Regions from separate parts of the Homo sapiens genome. Here region 1 is linked to region 2. A link means that fine-mapping ties the variant in region 2 to the expression of a gene that starts in the linked region. Tissue or cell type: whole blood. Region 2 holds a variant in brackets; the other region holds the start of a gene. All regions are shown on one strand. Distances are between the middles of the regions.

Region 1 (2,761 bases), 24 kb after region 2:
TGGGAGGTATCAAAAGTTTCAGGAGTGCCTTGTGAAAAGGAGGGGGCAGAAACTGATGTGAGTCCAGCTGCCAGGGTTGTGCGAGTGCGAATGTGTGTGTCTGGGGAAAAGGTGATAAGGAAATGACTCAAGTGATTTACAAGACAAGCAAACGTATGTCTTGTGAAGGGTGATCTATTTAGACTAACCTCAATTACTGACCAAGAACCTATTTGACCTGACCCATTTTCTACTTCATTCACACACCAGTCTTTGTTCTCTTCCTTGAAGTCAGGCCACACACTGCCTCTTCTGTTACCTGAACACCCCTATATTATTCCCATCTCAGGACCTTCTGCACCTGCCTGGCTCCTTATAATTCCGGTTTCTGTTCAAATGTTGCTTCTTCGGAGACGATTTCTCTTGACTATTCCATCTAAATAAAATAGCGTAACTCTTTCCTTCGAGTTCCCCCGATTTCTTCATTGCACCTTTCACTCTCTTAAAGTTATCTCATTTATGTGTTTACTTGTTTAAGGCTTGCCTCCCCCATTCCGATGTACACTCTGTAAACCAGGGACACTTTTGACCTTGTTCCTGGCTGTATGTAACCTTAGCGTCAGGCGCACAGAAACTATATACATATCTGCTGTCTTCTGTAAATATAAAACCTCAAGTCCGGAGATCCCTAGACACTGGGAGCGATCAAGGGCCGGGAGTGTGCCTTGTGGACGAATGAGGAAGTGGGAAGGCCGTCCTGAGAAGATCGGGGAACCCTGGGAAGGAAAAGTAGAAGTCCGAGCTCTCGGGAGGACCGAGGGGCGCGAACGTGGGGGTCTCACCTGCCGAATGGCCGCCAGCGTGTTCTCGGGCGCGTCGTGGCTGCCGCCACGGTGGGCGATGGCAGAAATGCGGTCCCGGGGCTTGAGCACCTGCAGGGCCCTGCAAGAGGGCACCGGCTCAAAGCTGAAGACGCGCAGTAGAACGAAGAGGCTGCCGGTGAGGAGGCAGGCATTGACCGGGCTCCGCGTCACCAGCAGCAGCACTAGCAGCAGGAAGGAGAAAGGGCCCAGGAGGCCGCCCTGGTCCTCCCACAGCCACATGCCGGCGCCCGCACCGGCACGGACGGGAGTCCCGGACCCGCCGGGCTCCTGGGGCAGTAGAACGAGAAGCGAGGGGGAGGGTCCAAGGCACCGGCAGCAGCAGGAACCCTCTGAGGGGACCAGCGCCGCACAATGGCGGCAGCAGACACATCCAGAGAGGGAGTCGGCCGCCCAGCCAATCAGGGATCGGGATTCGCAGCGCCAGTGGGCGGAGCCGCTCCATGGCAACGGGGGAGGGCCCAGGCCCCAGGCCCCAGGCTCACGTTCCAAATCTAAGGTGGGTTAGGGTTTTCCGAGGTCTGAACTTCAACCTGGGCGTTCAGACTCCTAGGCGAGAAAAGGAGGGATAAGAACCATCCTAAAGCTGTAGGACTGGAAGGGATTTTAGTGACTCCTTTATCTGCCCTTGAGGAAACTGAATTCCAGGGAACCTGGAGAGGCAGGATGCTTAGACTATCAATTCAATTCAATTCAATTCAGTTCAGTTCAGTTCAATTCAAGATGTGCCAAATACCGGTCCAGGTGCTCCGGACACAGTTGAACAGGACCTACAGGGTTTTTGCTCTTATGGGATTCACATTCTTGTGGGAGGAAATAAAAGTTAGCAAGTACACCTAACGTTTACAGAGCACTTACCATGTCCCAGGTACTTGACGAGCAAACACTTTATATGCTTATCTCATTCTCAATACAGCCTAACAGTTACTATCAGGAGACTGATTTCAATCGACTTTATTTTCCAGATTCTGGGGGACTGGAAGAGCCTAGCAAAGAAGGCACAATCGGATTATAAAACTGGAAGGGGTTTTAAGGATTCCCTTATTTCATAGATGCGGAAACTGAGGATAGGTGAATTAAGCAGTTAATGGCAGGGTGGGGACTGACATAAAGGCCTCCCCAGTGATTTGTGACATTTTCACTCCTCCTCCCCCTAATCTTACTTCTGCTAAGGGCTTTTGTACCAGGCACTGTACAGGAGTTACCTCAACTGTGCCTCACAACCACCCTTGTGATAGGCACTTTTAAAACCCCCATTTTACATATGCAAAAACAGGCACTGGAAGGAGGGTAAGAGAGATAGACCATGAAGCCGAGTTAGGGAGTGAAAAGGGGCCCCTGGACATATTTTGGAGGGCTGGTAACATTTTTATGTAGAGAACTTTGCAAAAATATTCAGGGATTTTTCTGTTACCTTTTTTTCCTTTAGTGCATTTTCCCACTGATTTGCAAAAGGGGATAGATGTCTTAAGCCTTCCAGTTGGCATCTAGGATTCAGCCTTTTTTTTTTTTTCTTTCAGACAGTCTCACTCTATCGCCCAGGTTGGAATGCAGTGGTGCAATCATGGCTCACTGCAACGTCGACCTCCTGGGCTCAAGCGATCTTCCGACCTCAGCCTCCCGAGTAGCTGGGATCACAGGCTCGCGCCACCCCACCCGGCTAACGTTTAAAATTTTTGTAGAGATGCCGTCTCCCTTTGTTGCCCAGGCTGATCTCGAACTCCTGGGCTCAAGCGATCCTTCCGCCTCGGCTTCCAAAATGTTGGAATTATAGGCGTAAGCCATCACGCCCGGTGGGTTCAGCAAGTTTTTACCTACAAGAAAATATTTTGGTGAATGTTACATGTTTTCTAACGGCTGCATAGAAAGGGGTTATCTTTATACAGATAAGAAAAAAATGG
Region 2 (2,761 bases):
GTTTTTTTCTTTTTCAGCAACAAGGCTTTTTGCATTTGGGGGAACATGATGGCAGTCTTGGTGAGTAATTAAACTGGGACAGAATAAGACACTAATTTATTTCTGGTGAAATATCCTAAGACAAGTGTAAGAATTGCTCATGTGTCCATTACTTTTTCAGTTGCAAATTGGATCCAAACTGGCTTAAACAAAATTCCAAGAATAATTCTTGCTTTAGGCCTTGCCTAACGCAGGAACTCACAGTGTCACCAGAACCCGGTTTCTTTCAGTTCCGTTCTTACCCATGTTAGTTCCTTTTGCAATAGACTCTGCCTAATAAGTGCAAGACAGCTTTATCAACTTCTTATATCTTCTCAGAGTCAGTCTGGTGGGAAAGACTGAGGGACCCAGGATTCTCACGGTGTTTCATAGGATCTGACTGGGTGATGTCCCCGTCTATGAACCAATTGTTGTGGGTGCAAAAATGTGGCAGTTCCCTTGATCACATGATTTCATCTGTAGATGCAGGTGGTGCAACCATGAAGACCATAGGGACCAAGAGTAGGGAAGGGTGACTTCCTAAAGAAAATCTGGGGCTGATGCCAGGAGAGCGAATTCTGGGCAGGAAACAAACAAGCAAACCCATTTATTTTTGGGGGATAGCATTTACTGATGACTTCCAGTGATGGGAGTTCAAGGGAAGGATTATAGAAACTAAAAGGAAGAGGCAAAGAAGGCATGAGAAGCTATGGAATCTTGAAGGCAAGCTGGTCTTTCCCTTGTAGAGATGGGGCAGAGTGTGCCTGCGTTAACTTCTCTTTCCTGTGTCAAACCTAGACTTGCGATCTAGAAGATCAGTTCAAGAAGGTAATCCAAGGGCCTGATGACTCTTTTGGTAACCAGACACCAATCAAATAAGGGGAGGAGACGAAAATGGAATGATTTCTTCCATGCCACCTGTGCCTTTAGGAACTGCCCAGAAGAAAATCCAAGGCTTTAGCCAGGAGCGGAAACTGACTACCATGTAATTATCAAAGTAAAATTGGGCATTCCATGCTATTTTTAATACCTGGATTGCTGATTTTTCAAGACAAAATACTTGGGGTTTTCCAATAAAGATTGTTGTAATATTGAAATGAGCCTACAAAAACCTAGGAAGAGATAACTAGGGAATAATGTATATTATCTTCAAGAAGTGTGTGCAGGAATGATTGGTTCTTAGAAATCTCTCCTGCCAGACTTCCCAGACCTGGCAAAGGTTTAGAAACTGTTGCTAAGAAAAGTGGTCCATCCTGAATAAACATGTAATACTCCAGCAGGGATATGAAGCCTCTGAATTGTAGAACCTGCATTTATTTGTGACTTTGAACTAAAGACATCCCCCATGTCCCAAAGGTGGAATACAACCAGAGGTCTCATCTCTGAACTTTCTTGCGTACTGATTACATGAGTCTTTGGAGTCGGGGATGGAGGAGGTTCTGCCCCTGTGAGGTGTTATACATGACCATCAAAGTCCTACGTCAAGCTAGCTTTGCAGTGGCAGTACCGTAGCCAATGAGATTTATCCGAGACGCGATTATTGCTAATTGGAAATTTTCCCAATACCCCACCGTGATGACTTGAAATATAATCAGCGCTGGCAATTTTTGACAGTCTCTACGGAGACTGAATAAGAAAAAAGAAAAGAAAAGAAATTAGCTGGGTGCGATGGCTTATGCCTGTAATCC[C/T]GGCACTTTGGGAGGCTGAGGCAAGCGGATCACTTAATGTCAGGAGTTCAAGACCAGCCTGGCCAACATGGTGAAACCCCGTCTCTACTAAAAATAAAAAAACTAGCTGGGCGTGGTGGTACATGCCTATAATCCCAGCTACTCGGGAGGCTGAGGCAGGAGAATTGCTTGAACCTGGGAGGCAGAGGTTGCAGTGAGGCGAGATTGTACCACTGCATTCCAGCCTGGGCAACAGTGAGACTCTGCCTCAAAAAAATAAATAAATAAATAAATAAAGTAAATTAAAAGTCTTATTCAAACCAAATATGAAACTGGTGGTGATGTGTGGAATGTGTGTGTGTGTGCACATATGTAATGAATACGTGTGTGTATAATGTTTTTGCAGGTTTGCCAAATGATTCACAAGCCACGTGGCTGTTCTTAACACTGAAAGGTCCAGCAGAAAGGTGCAGTTACTCAGGAGAGAGGAGCCTCCTCTTAAGTAATCACTCGCATAAAACCTAATTGGAACTGAATTTAGAAAGCAGTTAAGATACATTCGAAACACAAGCACCCAACCAGTGCTGTCATTTATTCCCTTTTTTTTTTATTTTTAAGAGATAAGGCTGGGCTGTGTTGCCAGCTTTGACTCAAACTCCTAGGTCAAGCAGTCCTCCCACTTCAGCCTGCCAAGTAGCTGGGACTACAGGCACACGCCACTGCACTTGACCACGCACTTTTTCATTCACTTATTTTTTTCATTAATTCACTTCATCGGAGGAATTAATTTCTTTTGGTGTCATCTTTGGTAACAGTTGTATGTAGTGTTCATCCATCCATTCATTCAACAAATATGGACCAAATAGTGGTGAGCAAGATGGTGAACAATTCATGGTGCTGCCTGTCTAGCAGGTTTAGACATGAATTTAATTCTTAAGCAATAATTAATTACAGTTGTAGTAGATGCTCTGAAGAAGCACAGGGACTAAGGGAGACTTGTCTGTGGGGTCAGTGCAGGCAACCCATGGAAGTGATGTTGGAAGTGATTTTATTCCCCTTGGGGTCATCTTAGTGCT

What was found. PIP is the estimated chance that this variant, and not a neighbour inherited with it, causes the effect.
Region 1: GDE1 starts here. The variant in region 2 is fine-mapped to the expression of GDE1 in whole blood (INTERVAL, PIP 0.99).

The regions. Positions count from the first base shown.
Region 1 is chr16:19,520,883-19,523,643 of GRCh38, forward strand. It overlaps GDE1 (glycerophosphodiester phosphodiesterase 1), which reads right to left and starts at 1,216. Exons shown (of 6, transcript NM_016641.4): 1 at 822-1,216. The coding sequence starts at 1,082. RefSeq lists enhancers at 498-557, 683-1,417, 728-897 and a silencer at 1,008-1,177.
Region 2 is chr16:19,497,104-19,499,864 of GRCh38, forward strand. It overlaps TMC5 (transmembrane channel like 5), which reads left to right. Exons shown (of 22, transcript NM_001261841.2): 21 at 18-60; 22 at 817-2,010. The coding sequence ends at 863. It also overlaps the pseudogene RNU4-46P. Among named protein-coding and RNA genes, the nearest start is that of TMC5-AS1, 11 kb to the left of the region's middle. The variant C/T (reference allele first, on the strand shown) is at 1,707.